Regions from separate parts of the Homo sapiens genome. Here regions 1, 3 and 4 are each reported to be linked to region 2. The links are microRNA targets in miRTarBase. Many come from high-throughput screens and were not tested one by one. Region 2 holds a microRNA gene; each other region holds the end of a gene's coding sequence.

Region 1 (7,120 bases), not on the chromosome of region 2:
TGAACTGTCCTTGCTCTGTAAATTCACAAGGGGAAAAAAGACATGCATTCTCAGGGTTCCCTCTGTCCACATCAAATTCTCTCAAAAATCTATTTGTAAAAAGGCCAGGGGTCTCTCAAGACAAGTCAGAATGTTTTTTAAAAGCTCAGCTGTCACCCTGTAGAGGTAGAACTTTATCCAGATTTTCAGCTGTACTTTCCTGCAATTTCTCTTTTCCTTCTCTGCTACCCAACCCCCTCCTCTTCCGCTCTGTTTCCTGTTTCATTTTCTGACTTCTGCTCTGACAGGAAAACAAGGAAGCTGAATCTTGTGCTCTCAAAGCCCTGACTCCCTGGTTTCAGATTGGAAGAAGGCTAGGTGGGATAGGAGGGGATTCTGGGACTCCAAGGCTTTGAGTAGTGACGGAGGCAGCCTCTCAGTGTTCTTGTAGAGTCTGCAGCTAAGATGGAGCCTGCATCTACCCAGGGAGCCAGCTGAGCTACCAGAACTGTGGAAAGCAAGTGAGAAAGAGCCATATCCCAGGCTCCAGAAAGACTCCACACTTCCCAGCCATTTCCATTAAGAAGCACATATCCCACATCACCAAGAAACAATATCACATACAAATCCCTAACCAGAACAATGCAAGCAATGCATTACTATTCTAGAAGCTTAGGATTTAAGAGGGTTACATCATTTCTGTTCTTTGAACTTGCCTGGCTCTGCTCTTGCTATTTTCCCTGCTTGAAGCACTCTACTTCCAGACCACCCTTTGGCTAGCCCATTATGTTTGGGTCTCCGGAGAGAAGTCACCTCCTTAGAGAGGCTTTCCCTGTACTATCCCATCAGTCTGTTCTGTTTTTTTTTTTTTTTTTTTTTTTTTTTAAAGATGAGGTCTCACTATATTGCCAAGGCTAGTCTGGAACTCCTAGGCTCAAAGGATCCACCCACCTTGGCCTCCCAAAATGCTGGGATTACAGGTGTGAGCCACTGCGCCCGGCCTCTGTTTTCTTCATAGCACTTAACACTATCTGCTTGTCCTGTCCATGAATTTTACTTGTTTCAATGTCTGTTTCCCTATTCTAGAATGTAAGCTTCTGAGTGTAATGGAGGAGCAAGGGCTTTGTTCACCAATGTATTTCCAGTTAGAACAGTGCCTTGCACACTGTGTGTCTTCAATAAAGATCTGGTCAATAAATCAATTTCTTTAATCCTATACCTATATTTTATGGATGAGGGAGCTAAGGATCACAAAGGGTAAGTGACTGGCAAGAAGTCACATAGCTAGTGGTAGCGATGGGACTTGAATTCAGGTCTCCAGCCTCCCAGGCTGGTTCTCCCACTCTACACTATTTTAATCTTTCACAGATTTACCTCTTTCCCTCTCTTCCATTTTTCCCATATGTAAGAGTCTTTACGGGCTATGCTAAGATGGGCACACCAAGTCTTAACAGCTCTGACCTACTCTTTCCTCCATCAAATTCCTATCTTATCTGTTTGATTTGTTCAACAGTACAGGAATGCCTACTATGTGATGGGATGAAGATGCAACACTGAGCAAGATAGAAACAATCCTTGCCCTGGTGGAGATGATATCTACCTCATAGGATTTATAGTGCTTGGCATACAATGCTCAATAAAGATGGGCTATTACAACTCACTGAACAAAAAAGTGATTTTCCCACTGAAAGTGTAGAGAAGGAAGTTAGGTGGTTCTCACAGAACACTCACTTCCCTGGAGCAACTGACATTTCTCTCTGTAGCTGCCTTGCCTTGCTCCTGCCTCCACTTCTGGAAGTGGCCTTGGCCCCAGGCTGGGCAGAGGACCAGCCCAGTAAGTAGCCCAACTACTCTCAGCAGTTCAGTTTCTAGAAGCTAAACTTTCCATGGCCCCAGTCCTATGGGATTGGAATAGCTGATCCTAATCTGGGATGCTGGCTCTGATGTCATGCCATTGTGGGGCGAAAGTGACCATACTGGCCTGCTGTACTTTACCAGAACTTTATGCTACTTCTTTTTGCTGTGGGATAAAAGGCATTCATTGGCAGTTTCCAAGATGCTGGGTGACATTTACATCCATCCTGACACTTGGGGTGACACCAGTCAGGTCTCATATACCAAAAGCATCCTTTTTGGCCTCTGCCCGATCACTTGAAGATGCCCATCCACCCAAGGACAAAGACTCTGCCTTGCCTCCAACTGCAGTACCCAAACACTCATCATTTAAAGCCCATGGTCACTAGGTATTTTTCACCATTCCTTCAGTGTTTGCCTTTCAGTGGTTAGAAAACCTTGACCCCACTGAGAGGCCTAGTGGGAAGGCCTTAGCCACTTGGGGGTGGCAGTGGCTGCAAGGCAAAAGAGCCAATGAGGTTGAGAGTATTGTTTAGGCTGGACTTGGCTGCTCTCCAGCTATGAAAGAAGGTTAAGGTCATTTGGGGGGTGGGGAGGGAGGAGCCTGGGAAAAGAACTACTGGCCACACCCCTGGGTTCTCTGCTGGCTAGGTTCTATTTACTTCTCAAAAGCAAATTACTCACAGCTCACTGGCCAGCAGTTCTCTTGGCCATGGTAACTCCAGTCAGAAACTGGAGACCAGGCTAGGCTCTCCCTGCATTGCAGGAGAGCAGATGAAAGGAACCCAGGAAACCGAACTCCTAGGTAATGCTCCACACACAGCCCAGATATGCAATTTCTAGACTAGCAAACGGAGCTCGAGGCCTAGAACAAAAATAGCCATTAGCAATATTGCTTACCAAAATTGTAGATATGAAAAGCTTCCCATTTACCTTTTTCTAGAAGAATCCTAGGAACGCATCTTGGTTGACAAAGGTTTTCCTCTCTCAATTGAGAAATACTAATTATTCAAATCCTGTTCCTGACCCAAATATTAACAGCCACACTTAGTCTGATGAACACTTGATTGAAATTCTGAGGACAATTTTACCTCGTGCTAAAGACAATAAAAACAAATCTTGCTTGCTGAGCTCCACAGCTAGATCCCTTACTCCTGGGTTGGGTTCTCATCCAGAAAGGAGGTAGTGTGGTATATTAAGAAAAGCATGATCCTTGGAGTCAGGTGGAACTTGCTTGGTGTATGAACTTAAAAAGCCTTTCACTTTTCTTAGCCTCTTTCTTCAACTGTAAAATGGGAGCCACATACTGACTTCACAGGCACAGGATTGTTGTAGGATTGTGATGTGCTATGTCCAGAATATAAGTAGGTACACAATAGAAAACTGTTGTTTCTTGTTTCAAATTTCACTTCTAAGTGTCCACAATGATAGCATTTTTTCTCTTTCTGCTTCTGATTTCTCCTGAGGAACTTGAGGCTTCTCTATTGTTTCCCTAAGGAAGGGGGTGAACAGAGAAACTATATATTGTGACATTAGCCTCATAAAAGCAACTGCATCTAGCCAACATCGACAGTATCATTCAACTACTACTTAAGTAGATGCTATGTGCCAGTCTATGTGTTAGCACCAGGATGCAGCAGTGAACAAAACACCCCTCCCACCACCCTCAGTTTACATTTCAGTGGAAGGTGACAGGTAAGTACAACACACAACAGGCCAGACAGTAACAAGTGCCACAGGAAAAATAAGGCAGACAAGGGAAACATAGTGGGGGGCAGAGATTGCTATTCTAAGTAAGGTGACCATGAAAAGCCTTACTTATATATTTGGACAAAGACTTGAAGCAGTCGAGGACTTGAGCCATGCAGTTATTTGGTGAGAGAGTATAAAGTACAAAGACTCCAAGGTGGAAACATCTCTATACAGTGGGGTGAGCAACGGGCAAGACAGATGGTGCAGGAAAGGTAGAGGTAAGCTAGATAACTCAGGGCCTTGTAGGCCACTTTTTAAGAGTCTGGATTTTTACTTACTGAGTCAGAAGCACTGAAGGCGTTTGATCTGACTTACCTTTTATAGGGGTCCTTTTGGTTGCTCTGTTGAGAATAGGTTCAACCAGGCAAAGCAGAAGCAGGGAGGCCAATTTGGAGGTATTTCAAGAATCCAAGATATGACAGTATCTTGAACTACAGTAGTGTGGGATTGAGGATTATTTTATGAAGAGTGCTAACAGATTGGATGTGGAAGTGAAAGAAGTCAAGGATTTTTTTAGCCAAGTGATAGAATGGAGTTGCCATTTACTAAAAGGAAAACACAAACAAAAAAACCAAAACTATGGGAGAAGCAGGTTTCTAGTGGGGGAAGACAGGACATTTTAGCTTTGGCATGTTCAAAGTAAACTTCCAAGCAGGGATGACAAGAAAGGTGGCTGAATGCTCTAGTCTGGAGTCAGGGAAAAGAGCCAGTCCAGAGATATTATAAGTGATTAAGTTGGAGATTGCCTCCAGATAAATGGTTGTCTTATTTTGGAATATAGTAAATAAATGACAGGGTCCAGGAATGCCACTATTTAGGGGAGATCTCACACTAAGGGAGGTTTGCAAAAACAGGACTATCCCCCTGCCCCCCGACAAAAGGTCAAGTTTTAGTTTGAAAACAATAAAAAGCTTCACAAAAGTCTTACCAAGATTTAATGTACATTTATTCTTAACACGTGGAACATATAGTATAAAGATTTCATACTGAATAAATGATATTCATTAAGCCAAAAAAGGAAAAAAAGGAGGAATTTACATCAAGTTTTAGCTACATTGTTGAAATACAAATATGCAGATTTTATCACTGAAAAAATCTCAATTGTGTTTCTTCATCAGAACTTCAACTGAACCTAGAACTTTTTCACACCTCGATTAGAAAGAAAACAAAACAAAACAAAAACCCAGAAAAAAATAAACTATAAGTTGATTGGCTGCTGAGACAGCAAGGACTTTTTACAGAGACCTGTACAGCATCGCACCAAGAGGGGCGATATCTGGCAAGAGATTAAATAGCTGTGTCTCGCTTTGTGCAGGTCACCAACTTGTTAACTCGTCATACTATAAAGGGGTAGCTGGGAGGAGGACCAAACTGTGGGGATCCAAGGGTATGTGCAATGTACAACGTCATATATATACACACGTGGCAGCGTAGCCGCTGCAGCTAAAGGTTAAAACCAGTTCTAAGAGGTGATCTCAGGGTTATTCATACAATCAAGGAGGAGAGAAAGAGGTCAGGGTGTTGTAGGTTCACACATGATACTTTGGGGGAAAAGCCTTTTTTTTTTTTCTCCTCAACGTTTAACTAAAAACATTTTTAAAAACTACAGCTTGCTGCTGACCCAGCGTTTTCTGTTTCCATGTGAGACATTATTATTACAGTATGTTTACAGTATCAGGTGTACAGTACAGTACATGAAAGGGTCTACACTCTACTGCACAGGCCTCTCCAGTGAACAGGGTCTGTTCACAACTGCGAACTTCTTGGCTCCTGCAAGATTGTGAATGTACAACAATAAACCACACACAGTTCAGCAGTCACCTTTTTTGTCCTTCAGAATTTTTTTTTGTATTTTTTTTTTTTTTTTTTACCATTAAAAACAGTTATGAAATGTGGCATCCCGTTGATGCAAGGACTGGGAAAGCCATTTTTATTTTATTTTTTTTCCCCAAACTCACTGTAAACAACAGTAACTTTGGTTAAAATAAAAAAAGTCTTCTATGTAGGCAGAGCTTTGTCTTTTCAAAGAGGGTGGGGTAGGGTCCTGAGGGGAGTAAGGTGAGGACAAGGAACAGAAAGGCGTGAGGTGATGGAGGGAGGGGAGGTGGAAGGAGGAGAGAGAAACAGGAGAGACTTTTTCCCAAGGGAGAAGCTGGACAGCACAGGGTAAACTGGATTCTGAGGTGGTTTTGCATAAATAAAGGGCAACAGTCAGTTTCTAAGTTCTCCACACACGCACACACACACGGGGGGGGGAGGTGTCCCACGGCTGTCATGACTGGCCAATCAAAAACAGTACATCACAAATGACTTGTGAAACCAATGAGTTCATCAACGGTGATACCGAGATGTCCAACAGCCGTGATTCGTACAGAGTAAACTCTGAGTGGTTCTCGTCCACCTTGGCCAAGGCAAGCAGCGCGCGGGCAGCCCGCCGCATCATGTCCACACTAGTTGGCTCAAAGGGTGGGTTCTGCATGTGGAGGAGGCTGGCCTGGCTCTGCTGGAACTGTGTGGCGGCAAGGCTGTCCTCTAGGAAGCCCAGGAGGTTGCCGATACTGCCCTTCTGCACTGCAATGGCACGAGCTGCCAGGCTGTCCCCCTGAGCCAGGTTGGCCAGCAGTACCACAGCCATCTCCCGGCACACCGGGTTCTTTCGGTCACTGAGGAAGCGCACCATAGTGCTATACAACTTCTCCAGGCGGCTGAAGGGGGGTGTGGCCAGAATCAGGTCCACATTGTTGTCCTGGATGCTGAGTTTGCTGAGGGTTTCCAAGACCAGTCTCTGCGGGGAAAGGACGGCATTGGGGCCCAGGGTGGAAAAGGGGTCCTGGGCTTCAGCTGAAGGGCAAACTGCCCAGTGTAGGAGTCCGTCCAGGACAGGCAGGCAAATGCTCTCGGGGTATGGAGATAGGTCCAACTGCCCCGAGATGTTGGCGAGTGTAACCAAGGTGTTTTCCCGGAGCATCTCCAAGCAGTCCCACCACCACTCCACTTTGTTGCAGCTCACCCCTTGGTCCTGTTCCTCCTCCTTTTCATAAGTTAGTGGTGCCTGCTTCCGTTCTGGGTGCTTGTGGTGCAGCAGGATCAGCTTGCCCAGGATGAGCAGCAGCCCTGGGTGTTTGGACATCTCAAAGTCATTGCCTGGCACAAATGACAGGCTTCGAATGGTATTGGACACACAGACGCAGCGCTTGGCAAGAGAATCCTGCCAGTCCAGAAGGGTACACAGTGGGGTCTCATCCTTACTGTGGGGTTCGTCCTCTAGGATCTTGATGTTCCGGTGGCTCTGTGCTGGGCTAATGCCAAATGGAAACTTGCTGCTCTCCTTGATGGCCTCTGAACTCTTAGCTCCATCCTCGGTCAAGGTGCTAGACCGAGTAGACAACATGTCATCCATAGTGGCTGTGATCCGTTTTTCTGGAGGTCCATCAGGTGGGGGCCCCTCCTGGTCTGTTGTCCCTGGTGTACCCTCTGCTGTTGTCACATGCTTCCGAGGGGCTGGTGGGCAGGGTGCGTGAGGCCGGGAAGGCAG
Region 2 (7,120 bases):
ATTTGGGGGCCTTCAGCTGGATGCACAATATCTCCTAGGTGAATCTGGAAGTAGGAGGATGTTTTTGGTGGTCACTATGCCTGCCCCTCTCCAGTGACGGCCATTCAGTGGCAGAGGCCAGGAGTCCTAAATATCCCACATTGCATTGGACACGTCCATACTATTAAGAGTTGTCCCCACCACATATGCTAATAGCTAGGCCAGCTGACCCTCAGGACCCAAGGCCAGACGAGTGAACCAGCCAGCCCTATTTATGAGGGGCTTTGAAGAACACTAGGAAAACTCAGATAAGTCATCCCATTGTGCTCTCACAGGACCGCAAATTCCTCAAACACCAAAAGTCTGTGTTTGGGGATCAAGAAGCCTGTCTACCTTGTCCTAAGGGTACCCATGTGAATTGTAGATACTCCAAGGAGCAGTCAAGCCAGGAGCATTATCAGCCAGGACTTTAAGTTTTCAACTCTTGCTGATAATCAGAATTTCCTACAATGCTTTAAAAATGCAGATTCTAGCTGGACACAGTGGCTTATTAAAAAAGCCCACAATGACCTTCGAGAGATAAAAACTACAATGTCTGAAATGAAAAATATACTGAATGGGATTAACAGTAGATTTGACACTGGAATAAAATATTAGTGAACTTGAAGAAATAGCAATAAAAGCTATCCAAAATGAAACACAGAGAGTAAAGAAAGACTTTAAAAAATCAGGCAGAGCTTTGGTGAGCCATGGGAAAAGATGAAGAAGCATAGAATACATACAATTGGAACCCCAGGGTTGAGGGAAAGTAGGAGGAATCGTGGCTGAAAATTTTCCAAATTTGATGAAACTATAAACCTACAGATCCAAGAAACTCAATAAATCCCAAGTGGGAGAAACATGAAGAAAACCACCACACCAAGGCACATCATAATCAAATAGATGAGGTCTTAACTGTATGCTCTATTGTCTCTCATTGATAGGCCCAAGGCATGAACAGAGAAGAAACAAAATGGCAAAGGCACCAGGAAGAGATGAATGGATATAGATAAAATAGCAGGAGAAGAATCAGGAGAGAAGGGAAGGGTGGCACAGTGGAGTGTGGTGGTAGGTCATGGTCACTGGCAGCGGCAGACTCAGTCACTGTGGAAGGTCCACTGCTTTTACACCCCTGCAGCAGGCCCAGTCACACTCCTGAGAGCAGCTAGACTCCTGCTGTTTCCACCAAAAGTCCAGCACTATAAGTATCTAGAGACCTGGATTCACTGAGTGAATCCTCTTTGTCCTGGAACCTGGCCTGATTCCAGGAAAGAGGCCCAATCAATAAAAAAAAGAGCAAGCATAGCAGACACCTGGAGGCCAGCAGGGCAAGTCCACTGTTCAAAAGCCTAAAGACAGCCCCAGCCACATTAGAATCTCTTCCAGGCCTGCCAGTCCCACCTGAACACACCACAGGACACTTCACCTGCAGAGAGGTTTCAGGCCAAGGGACAAAAACTTCCAAGTTCACTGAGTTGCCAGGGCATGGTCTATTTCATCTCTAGGGCACATCAGGCCTGCCAGCAGGGCCTGCAGCATCACCGAGTAGGCTGTCACACACACGATCACAATGGGACACCCTGGAGAATGGCAGGTAGCCAGCCCTGCCTATTACTACCATACAGGCGGTTACACTCCTTGCTGGAACAAGCAGCCAGAAGGAGTGCTTTGGTTAGGTCCTGTCCAGGAAGAGGATCAGGACTCCAGGGGTGGGGGTGGGCTGTTAGAGAGCCTGCCCCTGCACCTACCTGCCAGGCTGGAAGGACCTTCTCGATGTCATTCAGGTTGATGCCATCCCCATCTTCCAGCTTCCCTTTGCCACACCTGGACCAGAAAAGACAGAAAGGCATTGGAAAGATGGCTCATTCATGCCTCCTGTCCCATCCGGCCAGCAGGAGAGGAGGGACAGTCAGCAGATACCTGGTGCTGCCCACCCTCAAGCCCTGCAGGGGCTGTCCCACCTAGAGGAAACAGCCCTAGAGAAGCTGTGTGTGTGTGGGGGGGGGGTCCTCCCGTAATGCAACAGCCAACCTGGAGGGAGGTGGGAGAGGAACCAGAGTTCCCCTTGCTCCTTCCAGGCAGAGAAGCTAAGCTCCTTACTCATCACAACTCCTGTCAAAGCCCATCCACCTTGCCCCATTACACTGAACAGAAGATCAGTGGACAGAGACACCAAGCAACTTTCTCAAGGTCACATAGGCTGGCAGGGGCTAGCAGAAAACCCAATAGGGCTTCCTTCCTTTTTGGCTTGACTCTGGGTCAGTCCAGCAAGCCCACTCAGATAGTCTATGCTTTGTCTTCATGTCCTCTGTGAGTGGGCGTGCCCTCGGGCCAGAGAGGCTGGCCCCAACTCCCTGGCCAGAGGTCTGAATCTTTGGCATATTTAAGGGTGCAGATTCCGAAACCAGACTCCCAGGGTTTGAATCCCCGCTGCATCCCTTACCAACTGGGGACCCTGTACAAGTTGTTTAACCTCTCTGTACTCATTTCATCAAATGAGTTTCCTCATTTGTTAAATGAGGATAATAGTGTCTAACATCTTAAGGTGGCTGGAGGATTAAATTAATGAATGTATCTGGAGTGCTTAGATGCTTAGAACTGTGACAGCCCACAGTAAACGGTACATATATACACACATATATAGTCTAGCTTATATATATATATATATATATATATATATATATATATATATATATATAAATGTTTAGCTTGTTTGTTTATAAATGTGTGTGTGTATATTTCTTGTGTATGTATTATTATCTGTATTTACCATTAAATATATCTTAAACATACACACATATGTTTAATGGTAAATACTGGTAATAATAACAAAATTAAAATAAATAATGAAGTAAATATATTGCTACTACTATGACTACTTTCATTACCACTAATATTGTTGCTGTTGTTTAGGCAAAGAGGCAGGAGGGTGATTAATTAAGGACACAGATTCTGGAGCCAACCCAGCCTCATGCAAATTACTCAATTTCTGGGTCTCCTAGTTGCTTCATCTATTGAAGAGAAGATGGTAACAGTTCCTCCCTCTCTGGGTGGTGGCGAGTTTTAAATAAATGAGGCAAACACTTAGAACAGAGGCTGGAGCATGGCCGGTGCATAGTAAGTATTGTCAGTTACTATTATTACTGGTATTGACTGAGGAATGGTGAGAGATGTCCCATGAGTTGGGTCATTTTCCAGCTGCAGAGTTCATACGAATCTCACCTTTCAGAGTAACTAGTTCATTGTTTAAACATTTACCAAGCATCTCTTCTGTTTTGGGCCTTGTGAACCAAAAAAAAAATCAGTTTTGGTTCCTGCCCTCAGACAGTGGATGGCCCTTAGAACAAATCCTAAACTCCTCTAACAGGGCTGGGTGCCGGAGCACCACTGGGGGCAGCACGAGATCGGTGTCATAAAAGTCCTATGGCCAGAGGCGCCCTGGAACCCAGAGGAGGAGAAACTAGCTGCAAACACCAGCAAAGGCCTGGGTGGAAGAGAACAGGGGGCTAACCCAAGCCCCATTTGATGGCTCATTTCTCCATTCACCAAACACTTCTGTGCCCGGCTCTGGACAGGGTCTGGGACCCAGGTGTAAACAGTGCACACAACTGCCCCTCTCGGTGTCTGGCGGGATAATCACCCCCCACAGTAGAGCAGCAAGTGCCCCGCTGGGGACAAGGGATCGTTGCAGGAACCCCAAGGAGCAGCGTCTAGAACTGTCTTGGGCGAGGGGCAGGAGGAAGGTGAGAGGTGAGCTGGCCAAGCACAGGGAATTTGGGAGGATGTCCCAGGCTGACACGGCGCAGGCAAAGGCCTAGAGTTAGGAGCATGTGTGGTGCCAGTTTGCTGTGGCTAGAGCATGTTAGGGGTCAGGGTGCAAGGGGTAGGCAAGGGGCATGGTGGAGCTGGGGTGGGGAATGGTGTGCAAGGTATAACAGGCATGAAGGAAAAGAAAAAGTTTCCCCCGGCCCCCGGCTGTCCCCACAACTGTGATGTGCTGGGGCTACAGGTGAGCAGGTGGAGAAAGGCCCGGAACATCCAAACATCTCTTAACTCATCAATCTGCCTGGTGCAGACAGGCTGGCCTGTGAAAGCACCAACTGCGTGTAGTCTTCTGTGTTCTGCACCCGCCTGGGCCATAGGGGAGGAGGGCACTGGGGACTTGGCTTGACTAGAATGGCTGATACCACCTCCCCAGTGTCTCCTGTGGGTAAAACACACCTCAGGACTCTCTCGCATGCACTGAGCTCCAAGCACACGCTGGGCACCAGCCTAGCACACTCCAAACACAGCTTTCTGTTCTCGCCTCAGCGCCCCTGGGGGTGGGCAGGTGGAGGCCTGCAGGGAGGGCTGCTGTCCCACGAGGCCTGCCCTCGTCAGGGCTCAGATCTCCCCAGAGGCCTGCAGGTTTGGAGGGCTGAAGGTGGCTACAGACCAGCTGAGTCACTGCTGCCAACAGGGTTTCCAAGGCAACAGCCTTCTCTGATTTCTGTCCCTCCATGGAAACACAGGCTGCAGGGAGCCTTGGCAACTGAGTGGTACCTGCATCCCAGGAAGGCTGCAGTGGCTGGCGCATGGAGTGTGTCCCCACTACAGCAGGACTCTAAGGGGGTCACAGTTCCTGGTCTGGCCATGAGGTGGCCACAGACACTGCACTCAGACTCCCTGGGAACCTGGGAGTGACAGGCTTTGGCTAGTGAGCCAGATATCCATGGGAGACCCCAGGTGACTCTCAGCAAATCTGGAGGCTCCTGGTGAGAAAGTGAGACTGGCCGAGGAATTTAGGCCCACAGCTGGTGACACAGGTGTGGCTGGTTACTCTGGCTTCAGAAGGGACAAAGTCCCTCGGCATAAGGGGAATTCCTCTCCTTCATAGTTATTCATCGCTTTTTTGCTAGGAAGTTAGTTCATCTCTGGGGACTGGTGAGACACTTTGGCAAGCTTGCCTTCAACATGCAGGCCCCATTGGGCACCTGTAGTCAATAAGGCAGCACCATCGCTTCGATCTCCCCAGGCCTCAGTGTCCCCACTGACGTCACCAGCTATGTGCTCCCGGGGCACACAGGAGAGACTGGAGCTGCCCAGGGAAGTCTCCCTCCTGAAGCCTTTCCCAGATGGTTCAACCTGTAAAGTGCTCTCCTTTCTAACCCCTTTTGCATTGACTTTATTTAACCCTGCACCAGGCATCACACTTTATACCTGTCTATATATGTCTTTATGGTGTCTATATGTCTACACTGCATAGTCTAGTCTGTATGTCTACACCGCATAGTCTAGTCTTTCTTCCCCTACACAGTCTCCATCATGAATAGGTTCATATTTCCTTTTCCCAGTAGAATAAACAGTCCTTCTGGGCAGGGACTGTATTGTATACTCGTGTGTGTGTGTGTGTGTGTGTGTGTGTGTGTGTCTACTTTCCTGGTACCCAGCACCATGCAGGGACCCAGCAGGTCTAGTGACAGACTGGCTACACTGAACTTGAGAAAAGCAAAATCCTGCTCCTATTCCTGTGGCATACCCAAGCTCCGCTACACTGTTGCAACAGGACACTGGGCAAGCATCACCTTTGCTCACAACCCCTTCCTGAAGCTGACCCACTGAGAAAGGTAGGTAAGGCCATCCTTCCTAAGCACAGAAGTGTGGAGGCCCAGCCCTGTGCAGCTCAGCAGTCTGGAAGGAGCATGGCCTCCCTGCAACTGAATGAGTGGGCTGAGCAGGCAGTGAGCAGGGTGGATGGGGTAAGGTAGGGTCGGGAGCCTTGCAGCTGTGTCTCTCCTATGCTCCATCTTAACCAGTGCCTCCATGCGCAAAGCCATCTCTCCCTCTTCACCCAAAGAGAAATGGAACCCACAACAGGGAGGGCAATGAAAAAGAGGCGTGTGAGAGGCTGGTGTCTCCTGGGAGAGTCGGATGCAAGTGATGGGCCTCTCCCCAGCAACACACACGTGTGCATGCACACATACAAATTTGCAGAAAATTTTAAGGAGGTTAAGAATACCCTGATGTGGTGAACTAGGGGTTGGATGGTGTCAGAAGGCCTGGCCTTAAATGATGGCTCTGTTATTCAGGCAAGTTACTTTGCTTCTCTGAGTGTTATTTTCCTCATCTCTAAAGTAGGAATGAGCCCATTTCTTTCCACGGGTTGTTGCTCATTACACTATGATGGGACCAATGTTGCCAAGAGGAGAGGTTGAGTGGGACAAATATAGCAGCAGGAAGACATGTGAGATGTAGGATAGTGTCCAGTAAAGTCACTAATACTTAGACCTGAAGTGAAAGGGAGACAAGAGTGAGCAGGGGAGGGCTGGAAGGAAAAGTAAGGGTCATCAGTATCATAATAAAACACAAACAAACAAAAACCAAGAAAGAAAAAAAAACACAAGTGCTGGTGGGGATGTGGAGAAATTGGAATCTCATACATTGCTGGTATGAATGCAGAATATTCAGCTGCTATGGAACACAGTTTGACAGCTCCTCAAAGAGTTCAACAGAATTACCATACAACCCAGCAATTCCACCCCAGGTATACACCCAAGTAATTACAAGCAAGGACTCAAAAAGATACAGCAGTATTTTTGACAATAGCCAAAAGGTGGAGATGACTCAAGTAAGGATTGATAGATGCATGGGTAAACAAATTGTGGTATATCCATACAATGGACTAGTATTCAGCCATGAAAAGGAATAAAGTTCTGCTACATGCTATAATGAATGAACCTCAAAAACATTATGCCAAGGGAAAGAAGCCAGGCCCAAGAGGTCACATATGACTGTTTCTGTAAGTATGCAAAATAGATTAATTAATAGAAACAGAAAGCAGATTGGTGGTTGCCAGGGACTGGGGGTGGTGATGGGATGGGGAATGATTGCCTAGTGGGTATGGGGTTTTATATTGGGATGATGAGAATGTTTCAGAACTAGATAGACATGGTAGTTGCACAACAGGTCTAGCATACTAAATGCCAGTGGACTGAACACTTTATAATGGTTAATTTTATGGTATGGGAATTCTGCCTCATTAAAAATTATATAAAACTATAAAAGAAGGAGCAGCCATTTGTCCCACACCTCTGTGTCTCGCTGGAGTCACATTCCCGTCCTG
Region 3 (7,120 bases), not on the chromosome of region 2:
AAGAAAAATAAGAATGTTAATGTTAGTTCTCACATCTGGGACTTCTGATAAACCAATCAAGAAATATTTCCTGAGTACTAAGCCAGAATATTCATTTAGATGCAAAGTGGATTCTAGGGTATGTGATGTGTGTATTTCAAGAGTATTTCCTGTTTAGATAGCAAGCTTTATGAACTACACAGTATCTCAAATAAAAATTACACAGAAACTCATGCCTATGAAGAGACCTGTTTATTACTGATAACACTTCATTTGGCTAAAACCACAAGAAATCCACACACAAATACATAAAGTGCAAATTCTCACAGGCAGTACTTATAATACACCCTGGTGTTTTTGTAGGGAAAAATGAGAAGATGTTGACAGAAACTGTTAAAACAAGGGCACAATTTTGAACTACTGCTACACACTTTAGTCAGAAAAATAATTCATTCTTGACTGCATAAATTTTACCTGGCATATTCAATGAGGCATACAAAGAGTTTATTCTAGCCTAGAACAACAAGGCCTCACCATACATAGAAGCAGAGTCTTGCTTGAGTGGCTCTTGTAAGATACATGATGAATCATAACAGTGGACAAAAACATACCAAATAGGATCAAATTTGTTGTGACTCACTTGGAAGGTAGTGCTACTAGGCTCAAAATGACACTTAGACTAGTGATATTAAGTCTACATAGACACCATTTCTTTACCTTCCTGGCCAACACCTTGCTTTGAGTGTAAAATACCAGGCATTATATATAATTTCCACAGAGAGATATGCTTTGCTCTCTCCAAAGAAACTGAGTATTTAAGGGGATGTCTGCTTAATAAACATTACATTATAAAGTTCAGTGATGGGACTTCATTGAAAAAACTGAATTAGAAAATTCATTTTTTGATTGTTCCTTAAACTATTTGCTACTTTTAAAAAATCCCTTAATTCCTAGTATCAGCAATTAAACACTCTATAACAGGTACTGAACTAGGTGGTATGGATATGAAAAATAATAAACCACGATTCCTACTCTCGGGACTGAGCATCAGGTGGTCCTTTTTAGTCAAGGAATGCCAATAGTAACAAAACTGTTTCAGGTCAGTTTAGTTTGGCATTAATCCTTCTGAAGGTCAGATTCCAAGGGCAGGAAATAGTCTGGATATGTTCTATGTTTATATATCTTTTTTTTTTTTTTTTGAGATGGAGTTTCACTCTTGTTGCCCAGGCTGGAGTGCAACGGCGCGATCTTGGCTCACCACAACCTCCACCTCCTGGGTTCAAGTGATTCTCCTGCCTCAGCCTCCCGAGTAGCTGGGATTACAGGCATGTGCCACCACACCCGGCTAATTTTGTATTTTTAGTGGACACAGGGTTTCTCCATGTCGGTCAGGCTAGTCTCAATCTCCCGACCTCAGATGATCCACCTGCTTCGGCCTCCCAAAGTGCTAGGATTACAGGCATGAGCCACCGAGCCCGGCCTATGTTTATATATCTTGCACTACAGCCAGTGTGTGTAGCTCAAGGACTTGCCTCCACTGGGGGTGAGGGCACTGGGGGAGAAAACTGAGCAGCCACGTGATGAACATGGTGCTCCTTTGTGGTGGCATAAGTTTCAGTAAAGATTAAACATATCATTTTTATATTAAAAGTTTTATTATAAAGAATGCAAAATTCACTTACATTTTAAAGACAGAACACACTTCATGTCAGTGGTAGGCTGATTCTGATTTTGCTCTCAGAACCCCTTCCCCCTTCATCATGCCCCTCTGCTTTAGGGTTACGCTAGTGGAAAAATTTGAGCAGCAAACTCTAGGTATGTCACTTTGTCCCTATTTGGTCACTCTACACATTCTTATAGGTTCTCTTTTATAAGTACATAGTCTTGAATAAACAAAGAGGAAAGATGGTCTAATAAATATATAGTATGGTGAATACTTTAAGGTAACCAGTAGTCAACACTAACTTTGTTTCCAACTAGAATTAAATTCATGCTGTGCAAGGAGTCAGACAATGAGCAATTCTCATCTTACTATTTATACCTCTATGGCTTAGGGTAAGATGCTCTGAGGGACAAATGTGAATAAGATTTCCTTAGATCTTGTGCTTTGGCTCCCCAAGTACAAGGAAACCTGAAATAGAATGTTATGTCAATTGCCCATTCATTTTGGTTAGTACGACTCTTTCCTCATCAGTTTCTAGAACAATCTCAGATGACAAGTGAATTGTAAAAGGCCGTAATAAATTAACATATAGCAGTATGCAGACAGATCAAAACAGGTTATGAAATAGATTTAAAATTACTTCCTACAATAAGTCTTAAATATAATGACAACATTAACAAAATAACCAAAGGTCCATAGGCAAATGTAGTTTATGACTAAGCTTAAAGCATTCTGAATGAATACAGTTGAGATTTCTTATCAGTGAGGTAACAGGGCAATAGTCCTTCACAGTAACAAAATGTGCAAGGGTGCCTAGGAAAAGTGGGAGGTAGAGAGAAAAAGGCATAAAATTAAATGTATCCAAGTGAAGTTTGGATTTTTCAAGCATCACAAATATCAATGGAAAATGTGGAAAAAAGTACTGATAGCAGCAGCTCATAGAACAACTTATCCATTAAACTACAGCTAATATCCCTGTTGCATCAATTCCAGAAGCAACTTGCTTAAGAAATGGGAGGTCTATTTCCTATATAAAGACATTCCAAAGTATCCAATCTCTTAGAACCTCTCCATCTGCTAACGTATCTACATCAAAATAACAACATATATATTCAAAACGAAAACCTCAAATAACCTAAGCCACTATACATTCTTCAAGATGAACAAAATTTTGTTCAAGTCTCACTTAATTTGCCAGGTTAAATTAAAAATAACAGTGAAGCAGGAAAATTATTCATTGCACTTATGCATCAGTTACTCAAAACACACAAAAATTGTTTTGTGAGCTAAATTCTTCTAGATATGGAGTGAAACCCAAATGTTACTTTTAGTGCCCTTTATGACATTTTTGTTCTAACCTGAGTTTTTAAAAAAAATGTGCTGGAAAGAAGGACCCTTAAAAAGTCATCTGTATATCTCTTAATTTTTAAAATTTTTATTCCCTTAAAAATAAAAAAAAGATTTTGAATAGAAGATATTATGAAGATTTCTCAAGAAGTTCCTAAATCTTAAACTTTCCATGCTGTCTTTAAAAAAAAGATCCTTATTCCCTCTGGTTCTGTCTTCACTAGAGATGGAGAACACTATGGCATAGTATTTCTTACTTTGAACCCTTCAATAAAAGACTCAATAAAGCTTTATTAGCAAACTTAGCAAACTATCTCAACAGCTTTCTCCTCTCCAGAGTCAAACAATCTTTATTCCTTGAACTTTTTCTCAGAAGTCTTATTTTCTAATCTACATTTTCTTCCTTTTTATTTCTGCTCTACCTCTTCCTGAGTTCTCACATGATTCTGATACAACATCCTAGCAGGAACTGAATCCGTAAAAGGGATACTTTTTCTCACCTCCTAAACCTTGGCCTCATTTTAGTGATCACAATAAAGGAAAATGGTAGGTGCATACTCATCATAACAACAAATAAACACAAGTAAACAGGTGGGACACAGTTTATTCCCTACTGTTATGGTGTTACATTTGCCCTTCACGAGAAGCATTTCCCGTGTCTCTTTATATTGTTTGCTTATTTCTACTGTTTATTTCCAATGTATGCTTTGATCTTGCCCTACTAATTCTCTCCTTTTCTCCAAAGCTTTAGAAAATTCCAGTTTTGACTTTCATGCTCAATGAGAATGCAATCATTTTCACAATATTGTTCAAAAAGAAAAAGATAAACATTGTAGTGCCCGAGGCTGAGACCTCCTAGCCAGCACTTCTGTCTCTCCTGACCAGCTTGGGCTATCACTGAATTTATCCTGTTAGGCAAATGTGCACCTACTACATCAAGTTCATGTTAAGTATCATGCTCAGACAGACTCATGACAGGCTAGAATAAAATAATTCCCTCAATCGATACACTTCAGGAACATTTGTAAAATTTTGTTAACTTGAGAGAAGAACACTTCAATAACTTTTCACCTTAAGATGACTTAAATGTTGCATTATATTAAAGCACTCAAATAAAACTGTTTTCTTCATAATAGAATGACAGTCATGACATGGCTTTAGTAACTATGAATGAGCCGTTGATTCATTTTAGCTTCATTTTTGTTTATCAGTCACTGAAACACAGAACTAAACCAAATATACCTGTTTTTCATATATACAACATTATACCACTTTGCAGAATATATGCCATTTCCTAAATTACAATCTACATTCTTAAAAGCATATAAAACAAAAGATGTTTTACACATTTTAAAAATAAAACAAAAATTCTACACATATCTTCTCCAGTGCAAAGCCTTTGAAAACAAACTCATTGAGAAAAATGGTGCTCTACATTTAGCTAGCTGTCTATTATCTACAGTCATACAGTCATATAAGATCCAACAATAAGAAAGTAAGGAAGGAACAAATTAACAATAGTGGCAATACAATAGTTGGACAATTAGGTTTGGATTATATGAGCTCAACCAAATGTTAGCTGACAGCTGCAACAAACGAAACCATGATTTAAGGAACATTCTAATCAGTTCAAACTTTATATTATTATTTTATATGAAATAAATTCTCTAATTACAGTGCTATCTCCCATAAGCAATTTGTTTAGGTCTTGTTATTGTTATCTCCTAACTATACCCCATATGTATTCTGAGAACTATGTAGGACAAGATACATTTTAAGAAGATTAAACACAGCATTTCTTTTTCTCTCTCTCTCTCTTTTTTTTTTTTTTTTTGAGATAAGGTCTCACTCTGTCATCCAGGCTTCAGTGCGGCAGTGTGATCATAGTTCTGTAACTTAAACTCCTGGCCTCAAGCAATCCTCCTGCCTCAGCCTCCCAAAGCGCTGGTATTACAGATGTGAGCCACCAAGCCCAGCCTAAACAGCATTTCTCTATTAAACCTTTTCAGAAGACTGCATGATTAGCCAAAAGTGACTTTTTTTTTTTTTGAGATGGAGTCTCCCTCTGTTGCCCAGGCTGGAGTGTAGTGGCGTGATTTCGGCTCACTGCAATCTCAGCCTCCTAGGTTCAAGCAATTCTCCTGCCTCAGCCTCCCGAGTAGCTGGGACTACAGGTGCCCACCACCACACCCGGCTAATTTTTGTATTTTTAGTAGAGACAGGGTTTCACCATATTGGCCAGGCTAGTCTCAAACTCCTGACATTGTGATCCACCTGCCTCAGCCTCCCAAAGTGCTGGGATTACAGGCGTGAGCCACTGCGCCCAGCCCAAAAGTGACTTTTTGTAAAAAATTATTTTCTACACTAAAAGAAGATAAATAATAGTCATGCAATCAGAAATTCTACAGAAGTCAGCAAGATGTTAGAATAAACTGGACCTCTGTTTTAAAACATGTAGTTTTAGTATTTCATAATACTTAAAATTTGGATGTTTTATTCTTAGTAAAATTAACATTACTTCATAAAATAAAAGAATAAATCTACTTACAAAAATGTAATTCAAAAGTTAGACTGTCAAATAAATTCAGAGCTCCTTTCTCAGTTCAGATTTTTTTCTGTAATAAAAGGTTTGATAAATGACACAATTCTAATATGAAGATCCTTAACTACATTAAGCTTGCTTTTATTAAGATCTTTATTTATATTCCTAAGATTTTAAAATCAGCAAACTCACTTGATATAGAGGAAGCACCTACAGATTTTGGAAGATTTTCCTTAGCTATCTGCAAATTGACTGATTAAATTATGGTAAATGCAGGAACACTGTTTTTTCTGTTCACACCAGACCCTGAGAAGGCACTGAGAAATTTGATAAGAACAAAGCCAATAGGAGTGTTGCCACTATTGTTTTATGTTCAGTAAACATCAGAATTTTAAATACATACAGTAAATTTATACTGCACCAAGGGCACCTGAAACAGACATGCCAAAACCACACACTGTAACATCTGTTCTAAACTACAGAAATGCTAAATATCCTATTTCAAATACTCTAATTTGTAAATTAATACCTGTGATGTCACAATGACACTTTTTCATAACAATCAAGGAAAGTACCATTTTCTTGCCAATTTTATGGACTAATTTCCTTAACTAACCCTACAATTATATAACATTTACCTGTCTTTTTTTTTTTCTTTTACCATGCTATACACAATTACGAGATACAGAACTAGGCTTAATCACACTATAATAAGAAAACTCACTTTTGAATTGTGATGTTTCTGTTAACGGAAGGACAATACGTTACTATAATACTTTTAGTGTAATAACTTTTGTTTGAATTATGAAAAAATTTGAATCATTTCCCTCTAGACCATTTCATTTCAAACTTATACTTTGTTTAGTCTAGCCAGTTGACCAAAAAGAAAGAAAATAAAAGGAAAAAGATACTCGGCCAGATGAGATAGAGAGAGAATGCTAACACAAGGTTCAATGTATGCAGTTCTCGGTTGCTCTGTTCCATATGCCCACACAGTGTCATGACATATTGGTGTACCCCTAAACAGAACGCCAGATCAGTCCATTCTTACTAGGCTGAAGAAAATTCTCTATCAGAGCATCAATGAGTTTCTTCAGTTCTTCCTCCAGTAAAGCAGTGTCACTGAGGAAAAGATGAAGAGTTTTGGAATTATTTATTTTCATAGGCTTAAAATTTATTTAAATTAGTGTGATTTTTTAAGAGGTCCTGATGGAGTCATTAAACAATTGGTAAACAAAAGAGAAATTCACTTGGTTAAAACAAAACAAGACCAAAAAAAAAAATTACACACAAAGAAAACACTGCTATCACAAACTGAAGGTGAACTGCATTAATAGGAGTTCCTTGGCACATGATAAACAGAGGAGTGATGGTGTATCTAAAGAATTCTCCTGGGTCAGGAGAATGAGGTTCTAATGGCTTTGAACACAAATACCAGGTGTTAGGAGAAAATGGCTTCCTGAAATACTTTGAAAAATATTCAGTACAGATGTTATGGAATGATATATCTTTCAGGTAGCAGAAGGAGGTGTGACTAAAATAACGTGATGTTTAAAAAAATAAATGTGCACTTAAAAGAAGGCCCTTGA
Region 4 (7,120 bases), not on the chromosome of region 2:
AACTATCTTGTGGCTGTAGCTGTTGACTCATGCTGACCTGTAGATTTCTCGGAAAAGCTATTGGGCAAGAAAAAGAAGAGGCAAAACAAAAGTGACCTCCTCTTCTGAAAAGATTTCTCAAGGGCCAGAGTCCCAGGAATGTCTTCTGTCCTGGAAGGGGCTGAAGGTTCTAGAAGTTGGTTGCCAGCTTGGCTGTTTCACCAATGTGAATGTGAGTATATGTGTGTGCGTACAGTGTGCCTGTGTGTTCATGCAGGTGTGTCGGCAGGTGCTGCAATGCCAGGACCCTGCCCATCCATGCCCCTCTGCCCGCCATGCCCCCCGGTGCACCTGGCAGAGGCTGGGAGCCTGCAGAAAGCATAGCCGGTCAGACACTGCCACCTGCTGGACATACTGGGCACAGCATGCAGATGGCTTGGGGCCCTGGCACTTCATCTCCTAGATCTTCTAAGGCCCCCAGAAAGTAGTGTCCTCCATCACCCCTCATTGCCTATGTGGGCCTCTCTAGAAAACACTTACAGGGTGTAATCTCAGCACTTTGGGAGGCCTGTAATCCCAGCACTTTGGGAGGCCAAGGCGGGCGGATCACCCTGAGCTCAGGAGTTCAAGACCAGCCTGGCTAACACAGTGAAACCCTGTCTCTACTAAAAATATAAAAATTAGCCGGGCATGGTGGCGGGTGCCTGTAATCCCAGCTACTTGGGAGGTTGAGGCAGGAGAATTTCTTGAACCCGGGAGGCAGAGGTTGTAGTGAGCTGAGATCGCGCCATTGCGCTCCAGCCTGGGTGACTGAGCAAGACTCCGTCTCAACAAATAAATAAATAAATATATATATATATATACACACACACACATACATACATACATATATATATATATAAAGGAAAACACCTACTGATGAAATTTTATATAAAGGAAAACACCTACTGATGAAATTTTTGGCACTATGAACCCCTTTAAGTCAAGTCAAGCCCTCTTCTCAGAATAATGTTTTCAAAAGCATAATATAAAATAGTGCTGGACACACTGGCTCACACCTATAATCCCAGCACTTCAGGAGGCTGAGGCAAGAGGATCACCTGAGGCCAGGAGTTCGAGACAAACCTGGGCAACACAGCAAGACCCCATCTTTACAAAAAAAATTTTTTTTAATTAGCCAGGTGTGGTGACTTATACCTGTGATCCTAGCACTTTGGGAGGCCAAGGCAGGAGGATCACTTGAGGCCAGGAGTTCAAGACCAGTCTGGGCAACACAGCAAGACCCCTATCTCTACAAAAACTTTCTTAAAAAATTAGCCACCTATAATCTCAGCACTTTGAGAGGCCAAGGCAGGAGGATTGCTTGAGGCCAAGAGTTTGAGACCAGCCTGGGCAACATAGCAAGACCCCGTCTCAACAGAAAATTTAAAAGTCAGCTGGGTGTGGCAATGGACACCTGTGGTACCAGCTACTTGGGAGGCTGAGGTGGGAGGATCGCTTGAGCCCAGGAGTTCGAGGCTGCAGTGAGCTGTGATCACACTACTGCACTCCAGCCTGGGGGACAGAGCAAGACCCTGTCTCTAAACAAATACATAAATAAAGATGTAATTTTTCCCATCCAAGTACCTCAATGCTCTCCATGGATCCCTTGGGGATTAGGGTAGCTCAGTTTAAGAGACTCTGACCCATTCCCTGCCTGATGACCCTGGAGCCTCCTCGGCCCGTTGGCCCACTACCACATGGGACCCAGCTTAGCTTGCTCCCTCAGCCCCTGCCACACTGTCTACAGCCCACCTGCTCTCCCAGCCTCCAGCCTCTGACCTTTCCTCCTCAACACAGAACAAGGCACCACTCTCAGAAGCCAGGCCAGTGGCTTTCTGCTCCAAGGATGGATAATTGCCCGATCTGATGTCCAAGAGGCCGCCATGCCAGAAGGGGCCCACACCGCAGTCCCTCTCTCCAGGATTCAGGGAGGGAGGCCCCTGCCTCCTGACACCTGGACATCACCACGTCTCACACCAGGGCTTCCGGGCCATTTGTCCTGACCTATGGGGTCTTCTGGACAGTCTGGACAGACATTGAGTTTGTTCCTTAGAGTCTTGTGTTCCCTCCCCTAATTCCAGTCATTGTGAGGTTACAACACAAGTGTGAGGAAGTAACCCTTTCTCCCTTCCTCACGCCATCCCTCTTTCCTTTCAACAATATTTAATGAACACCTGCTATGTGCTGGGTAGTATTCTGGGTGTTAGAAGTAGAAATAGTGAACAAAATAGGCAAAATCCTTTCTTTCTTCAAGTTTATATACCATGTAAGGCTCAGATTAAATAAATAAGTTAAGGCCAGCTGCAGTGGGTCATGCCTGTAATCCCAGCACTTTGGGAGGCCGAGGTAGGAGGATCCCTGGAGACCAAGGGTTCCAGACTAGCCTCAGCAACATAGCAAGACCCCATCTCTACGAAAAATTTTTGAAAATTAGCTGGGCATGGGGGTGGGCTCCTGCGGTCTCAGCTACTTGGGAGGCTGAGATGGGAGGATTGCTTGAGCCAGGGAGGCTGGGGCTGCAGTGAGCTATGATTACACCACTGCACTCCAGCCTGGGTGACAGAGTAAGACCCTGTCTCTATAAAAAAAAAAGTACAAATAAATTTTAAAATAAATAAATTAATAGTATGTTAGGCAAAGCGTGGTGGCTCATGCCTGTAATCCCAGCACTTTAGGAGGCCGAGGCGGGCAGATCACTTGAGACCAGCCTGGCCAACATGGCAAAACCCTGTCTCTACTAAAATTACAAAAAAATTAGCCAGGCCTGGTGGTGGGTGCCTGTAATTCCAGCCACTTGGGAGGCTGAGGCAGGAGAATCACTTGACTCTGAGAGGCAGAGGTTGCAGTGAGCCAAGATCGCACCACTGCACTCCAGCCTGGGCGACAGAGCAAGACTCCATCTCAAAAAAATAAATAAATAAATAAATAGTATGTTAGAAGGTGACATATGCCATGAGTATAAGGGCAGGTAGGAGAGGAGAGTGCCAAGTTGACCTCACAGATGAAGGTGATGTTTGAACAGCCGTGAAGGAGCAGAGAGGGAACCCCACACGTGTCCAGGAAACAGCATCCTGCCCGGCAAAGGGAACAACTCGGGAAAGACCCAGCCAGACAAGCAGCAGGGGCTGGGGGTGACAAGGTCACAGGCCAGGTTGGACAGGGATTTGGGAGGCCACCAGAAGGATTTGGGGTTTGCTCTGAGAAGGGAGACACTGAAGGGTTTGGGGCAGAGGAAGATGTGGTCTTGGAGCAGTTTTGTGGACAAACTTCTGGCTCAGTGAGGGGTGAGCAGGAGCTGCCAGGCATTATGAGAGCCCTGCCAGGGACCAGGGTGGTGGCAGCAGGGGAGGAGGGAGCAGCGGTCAGATTCTGGATCTCAGTTGAAGGATTTCTCACAGGATGGATATGAAATGTGAGAGACGGAGCTGCCGAAAATGACGTGGGGAAGTCTGTTTCCTGGGGCTGCCGAAACAAAGTACCACGAACTAGGTGGCTTAAAACAACAGCAACGGGACCAGGCGCGGTGGTTCACACCTGTAATCCCAGCACTTTGGGAGGCCGAGGCGGGTGGATCATGCGAGGTCAGGAGTTCAAGACCAGCCTTGCCAACATGGTGAAACCCCATCTCTACTAAAAATACAAAAATTAGCCGGGTGGGGTGGTGGGTGTCTGTAGTCTCAACTACTCAGGAGGCTGAGGCAGGAGAATCGCTTGAACCCGGGAGGCAGAGATTGTAGACAGCCGAGATCGTGCCACTGCACTCCAGCCTTGGAGCAAGACTCTGTCTCAACAAAACAAAACAAAAAACTCAGGGCTGGGTGCGGTGGCTCACGCCTGTAACCCCAACATTTTGGGAGGCCAAGGCAGGAGGATAACTTGAGCTCAGGAGTTTGAGACCAGCCTGGGCAAGATAGTGGAGCCTCATCTCTACAAAAAATAAGCAGAAAATTAGCCATGGATGGTGGCATGCACCTATAGTCCCAGCTACTCAGGAGGCTGAGGTGGGAGAATCACTTGAGCCCAGGAGGTCGAGGCTGCAGTGAGCTATGATCGTGCCACTGCACTCCAGCCTGGATGACAGAGAGACTCTGTCTAAAAGAAATAATAAGTAAATAAAAATAAATAAGGCCAGGTGTGGTGGCTCACACCTGTAATCCCAGCACTTTGGGAGGCCGAGGAGGGCAGATCACAAGGTCAGGAGATCAAGACCATCCTGGCCAAAGATGGTGAAACCCCATCTCTACTAAACATACAAAAATTAGCCGGGCATGGTGGCACGTGCTTGTAATCCCCGCTACTTGAGAGGCTGAGGCAGGAGAATTGCTTGAACTAGGGAGTCAGAGGTTGCAGTGAGCCGAGATCACGCCACCGCACTCCAGCCTGGCGACAGAGTGAGACTCCATCTCAAAATAAATTAATAAAAAGAAATAAAAGAAACGCAGAATCCCAGGCCCCACTCCAGACCTCCAAAATGAAAATTCTTGTTTACCAAGATCTCTAGCAATTCTCATGAACCTCAAAGTTTAAGAAGCCTGCTAGAGACTAGTGGTTCTCATACCTGATATGCACCAGAATCGCAGAGGGCTTGTGAAAACAGGTGGCTGCCCCCCTACCCAGGCACTGCTTCAGGTATCAGGTCGAGCCCAAGGGTCTGCATTTCCAACACGTCCCCAGGTGTGGTCCACGTTCCTCCTCTGGCTCTAGAATCCCCCTGAGGTCTCAGACAGGGATGCATGTCCAAGTCACCTGGGGACAGCTCTCCCCACCTCCAGGGACCTGAACTGGCTCCCTTCAGTTGTCTTCACCACAGAGGACAAGTGGGATGTCCTGCTGCGTCACAGCACTGCCGTTGCTGTCTGCAAGGCAAAAACGTCCATGCACAAAAGAGAGACTCTGGCCACACCGTCTATGCTTGGCTATATTCAGAGCACACAAGCTTTATTTAGCAACAATGGCAGTATTTCATGAGAATGAGCTGCACAATAGTGTAAATGCCATTTTCTGCACACAGCCTGGGAGCAGATGGTTACAGCGACAGAGCCCAGACCCCACAGTCCTCCCCTGCCCTTCCTGACAGGCTCCGGCTACTTCTGGCCTCATTATTGTCTCAGCCACAGCCCAGGTCGCTGGGCCAGAAGGGAGGGTGCAGGCTGGTTCCGCTGCTCAGGCTCTGTCATCCTGCTTCTTCCTTCTCAAGGCCACCTCGGGAGCAGCTGGCAGGCAAGAATGCCCCCCTCACACACAGGGAACCCAAGTCCCTGCTGACTCAACCTCTTCTTTTTTTTTTTTTGGAGACAGAGTCTCGCTCTGTCACTCAGGCTGGAGTGCAGTGGCGCCATCTGGGCTCACTGCAAGCTCCGCCTCCCGGGTTCGCACCATTCTCCTGCCTCAGCCTCCCGAGTAGCTGGGACTACAGGCACCCACCACCACGCCCGGCTAACTTTTTGTATTTTTTTAGTAGAGACGGGGTTTCACCGTGTTAGCCAGGGTGGTCTCGATCTCCTGATCTCGTGATCCACCCGCCTCGGCCTCCCAAAGTGCTGGGATTACAGGCGTGAGCCACCGCGCCCGGCCTTGACTCAACCTCTTCTACCGCTGCAAGGCCTTTTCCTCAGTGAAAGTTTCACAGATGGGTTTCGATAAAATAAGGTGATATTTATAAAGCACTCTGCAATCACTCAGTATTAGTCCTGCCCCCCATCCAGCCCCCTGCCAGCCAGCAGGGACTAGGATGGCCTTATAAAGGGCGCAAGAACTGCAGAGACAAAGCACAAAGGGAGGGCCCGGGCCCAGAACCTGTCAGGGCTGCTTGGAGGTCAAATTTCCTTTCAGCTCTAGTGCAGGGTGCATCCCAGCAACCGACTTAACCAGATACAGAGCTGATCATCTGAAATGCCCATGTGACGCATGTGTTTATATTTCTGTGTGTGTGTGTGTGTGTGTGTGTGTGTGTGTGTGTGGTGTGTGTACATGCACACTTCTCTCTGTGAGTGTGCCCATCTATGTGTACAACCTTTAGTTATGGATTTTTAACCCTTTATGACCTTCTTTCTAGCTCTCTGGCACAGGTAGGGCTGTCTGGGGGAGGAAACTGAGAACCCCCAATGGACAGCAGATGTGCCAATATGAGAGGAATGGGCAGTGGGCAGCCAGGCCCACCTGGGAGTCAACACGGAACACCCCAAGCATCAAAGTCCTGCACGAAGCCTCTTCAAAGGTAGGGGGTCAAGGGGGTGGTAACCGAGTGGGGCTTATGTCAGTGGCTGGACTGTACAGATGGGTGAATGGCTGGGGTCAGGGGTGACAGAGAGGGAGGGGCTTGTGGCAGTGGCTGAACTGTACAGATGGATGGATGATCCAGGCCAACAGCCCCACGCAAATGAACCCCTCCTGGTCAGTGGTGCACACCACCCTGCTGGAAACTCCAAGTCAGCAGTCAGTTAACACTGAGATGGGGTGGGGAGGGGGAGTGCTCACACGGTGTAAGTTTTGACAGACTTATAGAGGGGCGGGAGCAGCCCGTGGTTCTCACGAACAATTTCCAGGTACTCAGATGGAGTCTCCAGCAAGAAAGGCCCACAGCACATCTGGCAGCAGCACCTGACCCCAGAGGGTGGCTCCGGGTTCTTGTCAGACATGGGGGAAAAGTCAAAATCAGCCACCTATGATGAACAAAATCCCACGGGTCAATCACCCACCCACCAGGAGCCCCATCAGGTGGCCTTATGAGCTCAGCTGCCTGGTGGCAGAGTGCACAGAAACACCTTTCTGGCACCACACAGATGCAAGAGATGGATATAGGAGATAAATCAGATGGGACACCAACTTAGCAATTTTTCCTGGTCTACAGATGCCTCTTGGGCACATCACCCCAAGTCCCGGAGCCTCGCTGTAATATCAAGACCCCCTCCAGGCATCCTGGCCTGGCCCCCATACCCTCTCTAAACATCCTCTCTAGGCAAGGCCCAGTAGTCCAGCCCCCACCCCACTGAGTACCCACCTCCACCATGTCCTTTTGCTGAGTGGCATTCCGCAGGGTCATGTACATGATGAAGGCCAACATCACAGTGATAAGTGTAGCACATGGGAAAGCAAAGAC

The links. Region 2 holds the annotated microRNA hsa-miR-4743-3p (UUUCUGUCUUUUCUGGUCCAG, at 1,843-1,863, opposite strand). A microRNA usually pairs through its seed, bases 2 to 8, with sites in the 3' UTR of a target mRNA and lowers its output. Matches are read on the target gene's strand: a 7mer-m8 pairs with bases 2 to 8, a 7mer-A1 pairs with bases 2 to 7 and ends in A, and an 8mer does both.
Region 1: miRTarBase lists ARID1A as a target of hsa-miR-4743-3p. Seed matches in the 3' UTR shown: 7mer-A1 at 5,214-5,220.
Region 3: miRTarBase lists PGM2L1 as a target of hsa-miR-4743-3p. Seed matches in the 3' UTR shown: 7mer-A1 at 6,271-6,277, 7mer-A1 at 5,819-5,825, 7mer-A1 at 5,602-5,608, 7mer-m8 at 3,856-3,862 and 7mer-m8 at 3,199-3,205.
Region 4: miRTarBase lists TMEM130 as a target of hsa-miR-4743-3p. Seed matches in the 3' UTR shown: 7mer-A1 at 5,940-5,946.

Annotation. Positions count from the first base shown.
Region 1 is chr1:26,779,494-26,786,613 of GRCh38, reverse strand. It overlaps ARID1A (AT-rich interaction domain 1A), which reads right to left. Exons shown (of 20, transcript NM_006015.6): 20 at 4,510-7,120. The coding sequence ends at 5,858. Among named protein-coding and RNA genes, the nearest start is that of PIGV, 4.9 kb to the left of the region's middle.
Region 2 is chr18:48,665,391-48,672,510 of GRCh38, reverse strand. It overlaps MIR4743 (microRNA 4743), which reads right to left and starts at 1,911; the gene lies at 1,843-1,911. CTIF (cap binding complex dependent translation initiation factor) reads right to left here. Exons shown (of 12, transcript NM_014772.3): 6 at 1,767-1,842.
Region 3 is chr11:74,330,102-74,337,221 of GRCh38, forward strand. PGM2L1 (phosphoglucomutase 2 like 1) reads right to left here. Exons shown (of 14, transcript NM_173582.6): 14 at 215-6,653. The coding sequence ends at 6,551. The region is part of intron 2 of LOC112268078 (a long non-coding RNA gene); the gene reads left to right. Among named protein-coding and RNA genes, the nearest start is that of P4HA3, 22 kb to the left of the region's middle.
Region 4 is chr7:98,841,562-98,848,681 of GRCh38, forward strand. TMEM130 (transmembrane protein 130) reads right to left here. Exons shown (of 8, transcript NM_152913.3): 7 at 7,022-7,120; 8 at 4,929-6,647. The coding sequence ends at 6,495. Among named protein-coding and RNA genes, the nearest start is that of TMEM130, 25 kb to the right of the region's middle. RefSeq lists enhancers at 274-323, 5,955-7,120.